2 separate regions of the Homo sapiens genome follow, and region 1 is linked to region 2. Evidence: fine-mapped expression QTL. Tissue or cell type: whole blood. Region 2 holds a variant in brackets; the other region holds the start of a gene. All regions are shown on one strand. Distances are between the middles of the regions.

Region 1 (8,105 bases), 98 kb after region 2:
TAGTTCTCTCTCAAAGAAAGATGGTAGTACTGAAGTTACTACTCTCCTCACTCACTTATGGAAGTGGATTCCTCTTTTCTTCCTGCTGCCCTCACCTGCTCTAAATCTTCCTATTTCCTTGCTACCCCATCCCCACCTGAGTTAAAGTATAGTTTGCATCAACTACCAAGCCCTGTAACCATTTGTTCTGAGAGTTTCCTGTGTCATAAACTTCCAGATGTGTTGATTTTACATAATTTTTACCTTAATTACAGGTTCACTACAAGTATTGTAGATCAGGTTTGCATTTTGGCAGCTCTTTAGGGAACAGATTTCAGTCCAGGATTCACAATATTGATGAGAAATCATCTATGAAATCTGCATGATAAACAAGGTCTATTGAAGATAATTTTTTTGGAATAGATTTGAGGGCAAGAAATAGGGAACAGTGAAAGAGAGGCAAGATATGGGGCTAGACTTGAAATGCATATAGCCAGCCGGGCGCAGTGTCTCATGCTTGTAATCCCAGCACTTTGGGAGGCCAAGGTGGGCAGATCACGAGGTCAGGAGATCGAGACCATCTTGGCCAACATGGTGAAACCAAACCCGGTCTCTACTAAAATACAAAAAATTAGCTGGCCCCCATGGTGGCACATGCCTGTAATCCCAGCTACTTGGAGGCTGAGGCAGGGGAATCGTTTGAACCCGGGAGGCGGAGGTTGCAGTGAACTGAGATTGCGCCACTGCACTCCAGCTTGGCGACAGAGCAAGACTCCGTCTCAAAAAAAAAAGAAAAGAAAGAAATGCATATAGCCTATAAGCAGAAATAAATAAGAAATGACATAAAACATTGAATCTCATATCAAGAAACTGACAGGTTCACAAAGCTTTGCTGTGGTAAACTTTAGAGAGGAAAATCTTGAAGACTGGCAAGGGTCACCCCACAAATATGAGTTCTTCCTGAGGATCTTATGATATTTACTAGATTGAGTAGATTATTAGGTCTGGCTTTTTCCTTTACTTTTATTTTTTTAAGAAGTGCTGTGGGCTGGGCGCGGTGGCTCACGCCTGTAATCCCAGCACTTTGGGAGGCTGAGGCAGGAGGATCACGAGGTCAGGAGTTTTAGCTCGAGGTTTTCTACCTTAGTTTCACAGGTACCTCATTCAACAAATATCTTTCTGCCAAGACACAAATGATTTCCTAGCTTAGAATTTGCTGTAAAACAGCACTAATACCATTTAATCACAATAACAAGCAAAATCTAAAAAAAACACACTAATACTTAAGTGCTGCAAAAGTGGTAATGTTTAATATTTAATTGACAAGCTGGTCTAGCATTACTTTGAGATCAAAGCATCAATGTCTTTTCCATAGCGTAAATACAATCACCAACACTTAACCAATTGCTCTCCTCAGGAGAGGGCTCTGAAGTTAGTTTTATAGAATAGAATACAATGTACCAACTGCAAATACAAGAGATAGAATAGTAGGAACATGTCAAACAAGAACGATATGTTCATTAAATTAAAAAGATGAAAACAATTTCTAAGTTGACATCTTGTGGTGGAATTTAAACATCCATATGCTTTGTTTCTAGAAGTTAAAAAAAGCATACTCGATACTTAAGCTGCTCTGCAGAGTGCTTGATGTAAAAATTTTTTAAACATAGCTTATGTATGGACTCAAATGCTGTACTGGGGACATGAAATCGTATCAGGGAGTTTCTCAGTCTAAGTAGCACAAAATCCAAATTAAGAAAGGCACATTTAGGCAAGGGCTTTCTGTTCAGATGTAACTCACCAAGCACCACAATTACTCAAAGCTGAGTCTTTGTGCACAGAAACATCAGCAGGAGCCATGGATTGCCCTGACAACCACTCAGCTAGAGTGCTGACAAGCAGAGATGCTGCCACCAGAGCGTGATTATGGCCACCAGGCCATGCCTTGCCCAAAGATGAATACAATATGCTCTTGCTCTACTACGCTTCAGACTAAATGTGTTCTTTAAAAAACAATTCTGTATATCCATGTCAACAAACTGTTTTTTTTTCCCCTCACCCAGAAAACACTAGCAGACAATTGCTCACATACAATATGAAGTATGAGAATTGTGTATTTTTCAAAGTTATTAAATGCTCCTATAAGGCACACTCATAGAAGTGTGAAAGACTTCAGAAAGACCAATTATAGTTGGGAACGCTTATTTGAAATACTGCTTACGACAAGTCCTTGCAAGCTAAGATTTTATGAGCTGTCAGGTCACAAACTACTTGTTTTTCTAGCTGCTTCATAGGCTCTAGGGGTCTGAATGTTTCTGGGAAAAAAAATAAATAGAAATAATACTTGCCTTTACCCACAGGATATTTCATAACAAGTGGGAAAGCCACAAAAGAGTGATATCTTAGAATGAAAAATGTCCCGATAGCCAGGTAATTTGATTAGCAGAAAATGGTTTAGTAGTCCTAGCTAAAACTCCTCAAGAGCCAGAATATTTTTATCGGTTTACTCATGGTAAAATGTAAAAGCTGTATATAAAGAACAGCATTTCCACTTCTCAAGTTCTGAAAATTGTCTTTATAGCTGGACAGTTGGCTTAAAACAAAAATTTGCAAATTAGAAACATTCAAACATAACGCTTCTTACGATGATTCCTAACTACTGTTTCCCTGTTATTAGGCCTAATAAGCCCGATGGTACCATTTTCTTTTAAAAGGGTATCCACATTCCTGCTGAGGTATGCAATGGCACCACCCTAGACAGCATCAGATGGGAAATATGGAGAAAAGGATTTGCAGGTGATAATTTGAGAAAGGGCAGCCAGTCCCGGGATCCACAAAAATGCTACTCAACGTGTTAAATGGACTTAATAGAAAACACTTGGGGCTGGTCGCGGTGGCTCACCCCTGTAATCCCAGCACTTTGCGGGGCTGAGACGGGCGGATCACAACGTCAGGAGTTCGAGACCAGCCAGTCTGGCCAACATGGTGAAACCCCGTCTCTACTAAAAATACAAAAATTAGCCGGGTGCGGTGGCGCGCGCCGGTCATCCTATTTTCTGGGGAGGCTGAGGTAGGAGAATCGCTTGAACCCAGGAGGCGGAAGTTGCAGTGAGCCGAGATCGCACAACTGCACTCCAGCCTGGGTAACAGAGCAAGACTCCGTCTCCAAAAACAACAACAAAAAACAATAATCTGTGTTTAAAATGGCATGTGAAAGGGGTTCCTCGTATTGGGTTGTTTTAATGTTTGGTATCTCTTTGACTACACAATGCAACACTTACAGTAAAAGTACAACCTTTAAAAGTATAAAAAGCCCATCTCCCCAATGACTTTATAAGTCTACCATTTTACATTTTAAGGAGTTTGCCCCTGTTCTTACATTTAGTAACAACATGGCCTTCCTCATTCTCTTTCAAACATTCCTGGAATTGATTTTCTGAATGCACTTAATCCTTTGGTCACAAGCTCAATGAAAAGGAAAAAAAAATGCACTTAAATATTCCCTGCATCAATTGAAACTGAAGCCCTCAGACAGCTGGAGGAAAAGGGGGGGAAGGAAAAAAAAGAACAAAATAAACAGGAAGTGAAAGTGACAAGAGAATCACACTGCTTACTTTTTGGCTTTTAAGCCTTTAACAATCTGAAAGTAATCTTAACAGTGTGGGGGAGGAACAAACGAAAACTCAGAAACAGCTCCCTCCCCAACCACACACACCCTGAAGGCTTTGGCTGTCTTTCCTCATCTGGGTCAGAGTTTGCACTCCCGGGCTCCTGTCAGGCTCCATCGCAATCCTCCTTAAACTCAGCGCTTTCCCCTTCTTCTAGTCTTTTTTGGTGCACATCCACTCTCTACTCCTCCAAGCCACGGTTCTCCACAGACCACAATACAACGGTGTCAGGCCAACTGTTACTCACCAGCACACTCATGATTCACCCGTCTCTCGGGTGTCTGAACAAAACGCGAGTTTTTCTTCCTTCTGGGAAAGGGAGGTGCTCGCAGATTTCAGGATGGAAATTTCACTCTCCTGCGACCGTCCACACCCGGGACGGTCACTGCCCCGTTCATCGTTTCCGGGCTCCTTAGGGGCTCGGGCACTGATCACCAAGAGGGAACCGGCCCCGCGGCGCAGCGGCTTTGGAAACTTGCTCCTGACCGAGAGCTGCAGCCCAGAAACTGCCTCCCAGGTTATTCTGCTGCTCCCAGGCCGAAGTCTGGTGGTCCCCGCACCCTATCTCGGCCCGGGTGAGGCACCCCCAGCCGCAGCGCTCTGGCTTCACCTTCCCCGGGCCCGGAGTCTTGACCTCAGCCCAGGCCTCCGTGACCCACGTCGGCCGCCCGGCCACCACCTGTCGGGACCGCCCGGCGCGCGGAGCCCGGCAGCCAGCAAAACGCAGTTGACTGCTCGGCCGCTCGGCTTTTGCTCCCGCCAAAGTTGTCCAACGCAAACTTTGCACCAGCCTACCCCGAACCCCCACAGCCCGGCACCCGCTCTTACCTGGGGCGGAGGCGGCAGCGGCCACGGGCGCGCTGGGCGCCAGGTGCCAGGGGTCGGCAGCAGCCGCGTGCGCCACGGCCAGAGGCCCCTCTGGAGCATCCTCCCGCCCCAGGCGCGCGGCTCCCGCAGGCGTCAGCGGCGCATCCTCCCTCAGCCGGGCTCCTCGTCAGCGCCTGGTGGCTCCGAGCTGTGGGCGCTCCCGCCCCGCCTGCTCGCTCAGCGCGCCGCGGCTCCAGCTTGGGCGGGCTCACGGGAGGGTGTGTCCCTGTTTCCACTTGTCGGCTCTCTACGCATCCGGGCGCAGGGCTGTTTTCTTTCCTCCGACCAAAAAAAAAAAAAAAAAAGAGAGCGAGAGAGCGGGAGCCCGAGAGCGGGAGCCCGAGGTCGAGGGCCCCCTCCTTCTCCAGCAGAAGACCCTCTGGAATGAACAGCAGCAGGCGACGCACACCTTGCGAGCTCTAGATTTCAAAACTCGCTGTTAATTCCCGGTGCTGCGTGCTCTGAGCGCCGTCTTCGCCATCCAACCCAGACGGGGATGAGACGAAAACAGCGTCCGGCATCTGGAGGGGGCAGGGCCGCTCAGGAAGTTTGTTTTCCCCACCGAGCTTGGAGAAGACGGATTGAAGCGGGTCGGCCGAGGCCTCTCCCACCTCCACAACCTCCAAGGCCTCTGCCCCGGGCTGCGGTGCCGGGCCCCTGCTCGCTGGCGAGTGCGGTGTGAGGCGGGCAGCCCGGGCCTACCCCTGCGGAGGTTTGTAGTTCACGGTATAGGGGCCCAAACCCGAGTTTTTTGGGAAAGTATCTCCCACAGAATTGGCTTCTCTTTTGAAGCACGTTTTTAATTGAAGAAGCTTCGGAACCGGTATTGAGTTCTTCTAACTACTGGGAAATCGGATGCTTTGTTTTGAGACTACTTATTTTTGAAAGCAAACCAAAGGCATTAAAGAGCAACCTAAACCAATTACAGTAGGGTTGTTAGATAAAATATAGGATGCCCAGTTAAACTTGAATTTTAGATACAAATAGTGAAGTATGTCCCAAATATTGCATGGGTCACATTTATTATTTTAAAAATGAAATATCTGGGATATACTAAATTATTTGGTGTTTATCTGAATTCAAATTTAACTGGGCACTCCGCATTTTTATCTCCTGAATCTGCAAGAGGGTTCAGTTAATGAATCAAAATTGGCAAACCTGCAATAAGTGGCAAATCACTCCTGGCGGTAATCTCCTTTCCTTATTGAAAAGGGAAAGAATCACAAGTTTCTACTATAGTAAAAACTTTATCACTATTAAAGGCTGATTCACCTGTGTTAACTAGCATGTCTTTCAAAATACAGTTGCCCCAGATGGAGAGTGACACATGAAACTTTAAGTTCATATGGGAAGGTAAATTACCTTACCTGAATCTTTTCCTCCTATTAGCTAGTGCTCCAAGTGAAAGAAGCGTGTATTTTTGTTTTTTTGTTGTGAAGGGTTCTTGTTTAATACAACTGAAAAGAATGCCTATACAAAGAATTGACATGAAAAAGCATTGATTCAACACTCATGAGCTAGGTTCTGAAAGGTGTAAAAAAATTACCTGAACATTTTTAGAAATTGGAAACTACAACTAAAACTGATAAAAATCCCTATTAACATTTGTGAAGAATCTTGATAATGTGTCCTGAATTGGTGGGTTCTTGGTCTCACTGACTTCAAGAATGAAGCCGCGGACCCTGGTGGTGAGTGTTACAGTTCTTAAAGGTAGCGTGTCCGGAGTTTGTTCTTTCTGATGTTCGGACATGTTTGGAGTTTCTTCCTCCTGGTGGGTTCAGTGGTTTCGCTGGCTTCAGGAGTGAAGCTGCAGACCTTGGCAGTGAGTGTTACAGCTCTTAAGGTGGCGCGTCCGGAGTTGTTCATTCCTCCCAGTGGGTTCGGGTCTCACTGGCCTCAGAAATGAAGCTGCAAACCTTCACGGTGAGTGTTACAGATCATAAAGGCAGTGCAGACCCAAAGAGTGAGCAGCAGCAAGATTTATTGCAAACAACAAAAGAACAAAGCTTCTAGAGCGTGGCACGGGACCCAGACAGGTTGCCACTGCTGGCTCTGGCAGCCTGCTTTTATTCCCCCATCTGGCCCCACCCACATCCTGCTGATTGGTCCATTTTACAGAGCGCTGATTGGTCCGTTTTGACAGGGTGCTGATTGATGTGTCTACAATCCCTGAGCTAGATACAGAGTGCTGATTGGTGTATTTACAATCCTTTAACTGGATATAAAGGTTCCCCAAGTCCCCACTAGATTAGCTAGACACGGAGCACTGATTGGTGCATTTACAAACCTTGAGCTAGACACAGGGTGCTGATTGGTGTGTTTACAATCCTTTAGCTAGACATAAAGGTTCTCCAAGTCCCCAGGAGATTAGCTAGATACAGAGTGCTGATTGGTGCATCCACGAACCCTGAGCTAGACACAGAGCACTGATTGGTGCATTTACAAACCTTTAGCTAGACAGAGTGCTGATTGGTGCATTTACAATCCTCTAACTAGACATAAAAGTTCTCCAAGTCCCCACCCCTCTCAGGAGCCCAGTTGGCTTCCCCTAGTGGATGCCATGCCAGGGTTGCGGGCTGAGCTGCTTGCCAGTCCTGCGCTCGTGCCTCGTGCCTGCACTCAGCAGCCCTTGGGCAGTCAATGGGACTGGACGCCGCTGAGGCAGGGGCGGTGCCCCTCAGGGAGGCTAGGGCCTAGCAGAAGCCCACCGCGGGGGGACTTGCACATGGCGGGCTGCAGATCCGAGCCCTGCCCCATGGGGAGGTGGCTGAGGCCTGGTGAGAATTTGAGCGTGGCGCGGGCCGGCTGGCAGTGCTGGGGGACCTGACGCCCCCCTCTGCAGCTGCTGGCCCAGGTGCTAAGCCCTTCACTGCCCGGGCCGGGGGTGCCGGCCGCCCTCCGAGTGCGGGGCCACGGAGCCCACGCCCACCCGGAACTCGCGCTGTCCCGCAAGGCCACATGCAGCCCCGGTTCCCACCCGCGTCTCTCCCTCAACCTCCCTGCAAGCAGAGGGAGCTGGTACCAGCTTCCGCAAGCCTGGAGAGGGGCTCCCACAGTGCAGCAGCGGGCTGAAGGGCTCCTCAAGCATGGCCAGAGCGGACTCTGAGGCCAAGGAGGCGCTGAGAGCCAGCGAGGGCCGCCAGCACATTGTCACCTTTCAATAAGATTCTTTACACAATTTTTATTAAACCAGAGAGCCAGCCAGGCGTGGTGGCTCATGCCTGTAATCCCAGCACTTTGGGAGGCCAAGACGGGCGGATCACAAGATCAGGAGTTCAAGACCAGCCTGGCCAACATTGGTGAAACCCTGTCTCTACTAAGAATACAAAAATTAGCCGGGCGTGGTGGAACGTGCCTGTAGTCCTGGCTACTCGGGAGGCTAAGGGAGGAGAATTGCTTGACCCCGGGGAGGCAGAGGTTGCAGTGAGCCGAGGTTGTGCCACTACACTCCAGCCTGGGCGACAGAGCAAGACTCCATCTCAAAAAAAAAAACAAACCAGAGAGCCTCATTTGGGGGCTCTTGGGTTCCTCGTCTGCTACACAGAAGTGAGGAGATTCCCCTGACTGATCTCATGTTGTTAAGTGTTCTAT
Region 2 (8,000 bases):
TAAATGACTTCAAACCAGCTCCTTAAAATCTTACTAAAAAAGACATACACTGAATATGATTTCTCAGTTGAAATACTATATTATCCTTTATACAAAGGTATGAATAGCAAAAGACTGACGTGAAACATTTTTAAGCACTAGTGATACAGTGTTAAATTTTTCATGTATTCTTGGGTATCAATTTAAACCCCCGATAGGGTGTTTGCACTCAGTCCAAAGAGTCCCTTTTCTCTAAGACTTCTATTCTCTTTCTTTGTGCTTTCTGTTTCAAAGCTACTAACTTTATTTTTAGAAATAAGCAGGATAAACATCTATCATTTTAACCTCTCTTATTTCATTCACTTCAATACTAATTGAGTACACACCACCAGGCAAGTGCTGCTCAGTGCAGGCCCTTCTGACTTCCAGGTTTGGGTCTGCCTGCCCCTAGAAGCTTAGAAAGAGGGCCCTGCCCCTGTGGAAAACGCCCATGGACATTCCAGTGTTCCTGTGCCTGGGGGAAATGTCTGTCTAGTTCAAGGATGAAATATTAGGAAGCCCATTGTGCCATAGGGCTAAAACCTTATTCTCTGATCCAGGTTTTAGCAGGAAGAAACGTCCCTTCCAGCTAAATCTATAGTCCTAACAACAACCTACAATAAGCCTTTCCTGATCTGCCCTTCCCCACCTCTCAGAACTCCTCCTTTCTCCCAGCTCCCTCCTTTGCGGTCACTGTGTAGTAGGCTCCCACCTCAATGCAGTCTCACTCTATCACTCAGGCTGGAGTGCAGTGGTGCCATCTCGGACCACAGCAACCTCCGCCTCCCATGTTCAAGCGATTCTCCTGCTTCAGCCTCCTGAGTAGCTGGGATTACAGGTATGCAACACTACACCTGGCTAATTTTTGTATTATTAGTAGAGAAGGGGTTTTGCTATGTTGGCCAGGCTGGTTTCAAACCCCTGACCTCAGGTGATCCACCCACCTCGGCCTCCCAAAGTGCTGGGATTACAGGTGTGAGCCACCGCATGCGGCCCAGAGCTCTCTTCCCTCTACGTGACTCCCTCCCTCATTTCCCCCAGGTCTTTGTGCAAATGTAATCTTATCAAGCCCACCCCTGCCCACACACATCTTCCACACTCTGCTTTATTTTTCTTCGTAACACTTATTATTTAACATAATACATAATTTATCTTGTTTTTTTCTCCTCCTAAATATAAGCTCCATAAGGGCAGGAGTTTTTATCCCTTTTGTTCTCTGCACTACCTCTAGCGTATAGAACAGTGCCTGACATACATTAGGTGCTCAATAAATATTTGTTGAATGAATCAATTAATCTCCATTTTCCAACTTCTCTATCTTTTAATTAATTTGGAACTTGGATAGGGAAAAAGTCTGTTTATTTCCCTTTCAAAACTGCAACAGTAATCATGAACCTAAATAACTTTATTCTAAGTATTTAATATCATAATGAAATAATGCAAATTTATTAATTTATCTATATTTGCAGCTGCTATGTAGTGGGATAGGGTAAATAATTCTTTATTCTATTTAGAAGCAGTTGGTCTAAGACCATTTCAGACTATGAGAACATGAAAGCTGTATTCTAAATTTTAAATGTCTAAGTGATGACATACTTCTGGTTTTTTAAAAAATGTATATTCTTCCTAAGAACTAATTCTGCCAAAAAACATACTAGACTGTAATTGCTTTATAACAGTGGTGAACAAATTTTTTGTGTACTTTAATTATTCACTGGCTTATTTTAATAATTAAAACTGCATTTTGTTTTCTAATTATTCAAATTTTGCTGAGAATTGCACGCTAATGCCTGTGCCACTAAGATTTTCTCATGAAAAACCTTTAAGGCTAAGTTTATAAAATAAGTAACTGAAATTTACATTAAATTTATTCCATTAATTTTTCATTCAATGAAGTTAAATTTTTTTTTTTTTTAATTTTCTTTTCTTGGGATGGAGTTTCACTCCTGTTGCCCAGACTGGAGTGCAATGGCGTGATCTCGGCTCACTGCAACCTCTGCCTCCTGGGTTCAAGCAATTCTCCTGCCTCAGCCTCCCAAGTAGCTGGGATTACAGGTATGTACCACCACGGGTGGCTAATTTTGTGTTTTTAGTAGAGACGGGGTTTCTCCATGTTGGTCGGGCTGGTCTCGAACTCCTGACCTCAGGTGATCCGCCTGACTCGGCCTCCCAAAAGTGCTGGGATTACAGGTGTGAGCCACCACGCCAGGCCAAAACAGTTTTTAAAATAGTGTTGATGCATAAAAATGAAAGAATAAAGACCAACCATTTATTATCTAATGAATTAAACAATGTACTTCTAGAAAAGTAAAGAACCAAACAAAAGTTCAGGAGAGACAGAAACCCTGGGACAAAGTTGTAAAATTATATACATATATACCTGCTGTGAAGATGGCTGCAGTTTTGATACCCTTATCTTCATTTTGTAGGTCCTGAAGGAATGAACCAACTGTTGACAACATTGGTTTGACTACGAATTGACAACGTTCTTTTCTAGATGGCAAGGTAAGTGTTACCAAGGGAAGGCCATGTCTATAAATAACTGTTATTTCTGTTAAGGAAAAAAAGAAAAAAAAATGAGTAAATTTTACTTTAAAAAAAACCATAAATACAAGAATTCTAGAAGGAATGCTCAAACATGAAATTCACAAACCTCTGAAGTCTTATAAAAATTTGTATTGCTCCAATAATGCCTTCATTATACTACAGTTTACATATTCCCTACCATTCTATAACATTTTAGTGTAGCACATACCACACTTTATTATCTGCTTAAAGTCTTCCCAGGTGGCCGGCATGGTGGCTCATGCCTGTAATCCCAGCACTTTGGGAGGCTCAGATTGGTGGACTGCCTGAGCGCAGAAGTTTGAGAGCTCTCTGGGCAACATGGCGAAACCCCATCTCTACAAAATATACGAAAATTAAGTCTGGCATGGTGGTGTGCGCCTGTAGTTGCAGCTACTTAAGAGGCTGAGCTGGGACGATGGCTTCAGCCTGGGAAGCAGAAGTTGCAGTGAGCCGAGATCGTGCCACTGCACTCCAGCCTGAGTGACACAGCTAGACCCTGATTAAATGAAAAAGAAAAAAAGTCTTCTCAGGTAAACACTTAAGTTCTAGTTTTCTTGAGGACAGAAACTATTTGTTTTTTTTTCTTTCTTTTTGAGACAGGGTCTCACTCTGTTGCCCAAACTGGAGTGGCACGATCATGGCTCACTGCAGCCTCTACCTCCTGGGCTCAAGCAATCTTCCCACCTCAATCTCTTGGGTAGCTGGGACTACAGGCATGTGCCATCACACCTGGCTAATTTTTGTATTTTTTGTAGAGATGGGGTTTTGCTTTGTTGGCCAGGTTGGTCCCAAACTCCTGAGCTGAAGTGATCCGCCTGCCGTGGCTTCCCAAAGTGCTGGGATTACAGGCCACCACACCCACCCGACTATTGCTTATCATCTCTGACTCCTCTGATTCTGAGGTGGGAATTTGACAAAAGACAGCAGCTATATTATGGGAGCACAAAAAGGTGGAAGTGAACCCAATCAGGGTGGGGTGGGATGGGGATAGTGTAAGAAAAGTCTATTCTGCTCAAAACTCTCGCAGCTCTTTATTTGGAAGAAAGGGAAACAATTAACATATGAATCAAATAAATGGTAAGAAAGCTTACCATCAGGTGGCACCACGGTACTATAATGGTGTGACTGGTAGTATTTCACATTTCCACACAGCTTCACACGCAAAACCTACAAGAAGGAAAAATTAATTTGTTTTTTTAAAAAAAGAGTGGGAAAGATGAAATAAGTGTCTTTATTTTACCATAAGATT[C/A]TTTTTAATACTATATGAAAAGCATAATGAAAAACTCAACTTGTCATGCATCCCAGGGTGAGCCCTTGGCAAGCTCACTGAACCTTCCTGGCTATATGCTTGCCTGCTACTATGTATGCTGTAGCAGTAGCACACCAGGACGGGATCCCTAAATTGGGGTATGAGGCCCCCTGAAAATCCTAGAGTTCTGTGAGAATTTTTACTTTCAGTATTTCCTTTCAGGTAATAATCTAAAACAAATGGACATAAGTATATCTAGTCTAGAGACATGCTTCTCAATATGTGGTCCCCAGACCAGGAGCATCTTGGGGCTAATTAAAAATGCAGAATCGGGCCGGGCATGGTGGCTCACGCATGTAATTCCAGGACTTTGGGAGGCCAAGGTGGGCGAATCACCTGAGGTCAGGAGTTCGCGACCAGCCTGACCAACATGGAGAAACCCTGTCTCCACTAAAAATACAAAATTAGCCAGGTATGGTGGCACATGCCTGTAATCCCAGCTACTCGCGAGGCTGAGGCAGGAGAATCACTTGAACCCGGGAGGTGGAGTTTGCCGTGAGCCAAGATCCCATCATTGCACTCCAGCCTGGGTAACAAGAGCAAAACTCTGTCTTAAAAAAAAAAAAATGCAGAATCACAGATTCAGACCAGATGTACTGAATTCCAGTCTGCATTTTAACAAGATCCTCAGAAGATTCACATGCACATTAGAGTCTGAAAAACACTGCTCTAGATCTGTGCTGTCCGATATGGTAGACACTTGTTAAATGTGGTTATTTAAATTAGTTAAAATTATGTACGGGTGGGACACGATGGCTCACGCCTGTAATCCTAGCACTATGGGAGGCCGAAGCAGGAGGATTGCTTGAGCTCAGGAGTTCAAGGCCAGCCTGGCCGACACAGTGAGACCCTGTCTCCTATAAACAGCAACCACAAAAAAATTATGTACACAAACATTCAGAACCTCAGTCACCTTTGCCACATTTCAAGGGCTCAAAAGCTCCCTATGCCTAATGGCTATCTCACTGAAAAGCAAAAGCGCAGGAATAGCATATTTCTATCATCACAGAAAGTTCTATTGGACAGCAGTGCTGAGTCTACAACATCTGAATGGCCACCTCACCACGGAACATGTTTTGGGGGCTTGCATTGGTGTTTGTGTTTACACAATTGCACTGGTGCTTAATGAAGACCGAATAATATCATGGTGCACTGTGTGAACAAAGATATTGTGGGAGTAGAAAGAACAGGCATTGGGGAATTGGTTCACAGGCATTTGGAACTCAAAAGGACTTGTACCAGAGAAATTAGTACCAAAGTCACAACACGGTGGCTGTAACATACTGATCCAGATTTTTTAATGCATCACCTTACAGTAGTTTATTAACAATAAGTTTGCCAGTAATTGTGCAAAGAATAATTCTTTTATAAACTGCATTTTTAAATTTTTCAGGATTTGAGGGTACACTATTAAAATAATAAATCAGTGGTTAAAAGTGTGTTCGCTGTTTCAAAAAATAAAGATGACACTGACCCAAATGAAGGTCCATTATGTTCAAAATTAAAAGAACCTCATCAATAAGTAAAACAAAACATTCAAATACATATTTTAGTATTAAACACAACATAGGCAATAAATGTCAACACAACATCATCTTTTACATTAAGACTGTTCATTTGAGCTTTCTATTTTTTTTTTTTTTTTTTTTTGAGATGGAATATTGCTCTGTTGCCCAGGCTGGAGTGCAGTGATGCAGTTTCAACTCACTGCAACCTCCACCTCCTGGGTTCAAGTGATTCTCCTGCTTCAGCCTCCCAAGTAGCTGGGGTTATAGGCACCTGCCACCATGCCTGGCTAATTTTTTGTATTTTTAGTAGAGATGGGGTTTCACCAAGTTGGCCAGGCTGGTCTCAAACTCCTGAACTTGTGATCAGCCTGCCTCGGCCTCCCGAAGCGCTGGGATTACAGGCGTGACCCACCACACCCGGCCTGAGCATTATTTCTAAAAATGTAGCTCACTACTAAGATGAGAAGAAAAAGGCAGATGATGTCTTAAAATAGATGCAACTCTCAATAAATAAATATAGGTAGAAGTTCTCCAAGTGTGGATAATGGATATTACAATACCGTCTACTACTTTTAGCAAAACTACATAAAAATGAGACACATCAGAATTCTCTATCAAAATTCTTCTATAAAAATAATGAGACAGATAATTTTCTGTGCATAAAAGTCAAATACACGAAGGTAGGGAGTAGGCCAGGCGTGATGGCTCCTGCCTATAATCCCAGCACTTTGGGAGGCTGAGGCAGACGGATTGCTTGAGCCCAGAAGTTTGAGCCCAGGTAACATGGTGAAACCCTGTCTCTACAAAAATTACAGAAAAAGTCTGGCATGGTGGCACATGCCTGTAGTCCTGGCTACTTGGGAGGCTGAGGCAGGAGGATTGCTTGAGCCCAGGAGGAGGCGGCTGCAGTGAACCGAGATTGTAGCTACTGCACTTCAGCCTGGGCCACAGAGGGAAACCCTGTCTCCAAAAAAAAAAAAAAAAAAAAAAAAAAAAAAAAAAAAAAGTAGAGAGTAAAAGTTAGAGCCCCTCCCTTTACTTCTCTATAATCCTGGAAGTCTCCCCAGAGGTAACCACTGCCAGTGGTTTGGCATGTATCCTTCCAGATTTTTTTCTACACGTTACCTACCAAATTCTATGCTAGAGTCCGTATAATGCTAAAGACATATGAGTCAGGTTCCTAAATGCCATTGGTGATAATGCCTGTGAGAATCCAGGAATCCAGTTGGAGGCAATATAAAATGATTACAAAGTATCATTTAATATACTGATAAAGTTGCAGGTGTACTACTGAAGAAGTAACTGTAGCACCCACAAGATAGAGGCACCCACATGACAACCAGAAGATGCTGAAAGAAGGCAGAGTGGCCTGAGAAAAACAGCAGGGCTTTCTCAAGCTTTTGCTTGCCTAATAATCACCTGGAAGCCTTAAAAACACAGATTCCCAGACCCCATACACAGAGATTTTTAATCTAAAAGGTCAGTTTGTGAGGATTTGCATTTTTAATAAGCTCCAGAGGTAAACTGAAGTTTCAAGGGTGAGAACCACACTGTGAGAAGCTGGGCTTTAGCCAACCTCCCCACAACCCCCACCACCACACACACACACCCCCTGCTGCCCCAGGCTTCGTGGCAACATGCTAGATTTCTGCGTAGAATCATTCCGAATTCCAAATTTTAGTGCCTGGTCAAGCGTTACTGCCTTTAAATGGAATTTGCTATCAGGGCAAAAGATGATTTGGGCTTCTCTTTAACCATGAAGCATTTTTTGTTCCTGACCACAGAGCTCCTGAATCCCTTGGAATTTCACGAGCGATTGAAGTTTCTGTGGTTTTAACAAGGTAACTCTTGGTGGGATGCTAGATGGCTTCAGGATGGGGCTGGTTGCTAGAAAGATCAAACCTTGATTAAAAGCCTAGAATGTTCAGTCCCATCTTCCCAGCCTCCAGGAAGGGGACAGAGGCTGGAGACTGAGTTAATAAAATCCATTATGCCCACATGATGAAACCTCCATGAAAGTCCCTAAACAATGAGGTTCAGCGAATTTTCAGGTTGGTGAATGCAACCACGTGTTGGGAGGGTGACATAATCCAACTTCATGAGACAGAAGCTTCTGGGCTTGGGACCTCCCAACAGTGAAAACTATGTTCACACAAACTGTACCTTGCTTTATGTATCTCTTAATCCAACAGTTTAGCTGTATCCTTTAGAATATCCTTATAATAAACCAGTAAACATAAGTAAAGTGTTTCCTTGAGTTTTGTGAGCAATTTTAGTAAATAGCTGAGGTTGAGGAGGGGGTCATGGGAACCCCTGATTTACAGCCTCCTGTGAGAAACATGAGAGGCCCAGGACTTATAATTGGCATCTTAAGTGGGACAGTCTTGTGGCACTAAGCTATTAACTTGTGGGATCTGATGTTAACTCCAGGTAGGTAGTGTCAGTATTGATTTAAATTGTAGGGCACCCAGATGGTGTTTGGAAAGTTGGAGAATTGGTTGTTGGTATGAGGAAAATATCCACACATGTGCTGCCAGAGTGTTCTGTGGGTAGAAAGAGATCATAGTAACCCATATGAGCATTATGATTTTACCTAT

The links. PIP is the estimated chance that this variant, and not a neighbour inherited with it, causes the effect.
Region 1: MCUB starts here. The variant in region 2 is fine-mapped to the expression of MCUB in whole blood (INTERVAL, PIP 0.90).

The regions. Positions count from the first base shown.
Region 1 is chr4:109,556,807-109,564,911 of GRCh38, reverse strand. MCUB (mitochondrial calcium uniporter dominant negative subunit beta) reads right to left here and starts at 4,666. Exons shown (of 8, transcript NM_017918.5): 1 at 4,476-4,666. The coding sequence starts at 4,574. RefSeq lists an enhancer at 3,780-3,979 and a silencer at 4,400-4,719.
Region 2 is chr4:109,654,764-109,662,763 of GRCh38, reverse strand. It overlaps MCUB (mitochondrial calcium uniporter dominant negative subunit beta), which reads right to left. Exons shown (of 8, transcript NM_017918.5): 2 at 3,678-3,753; 3 at 2,399-2,569. Among named protein-coding and RNA genes, the nearest start is that of CASP6, 45 kb to the left of the region's middle. The variant C/A (reference allele first, on the strand shown) is at 3,836.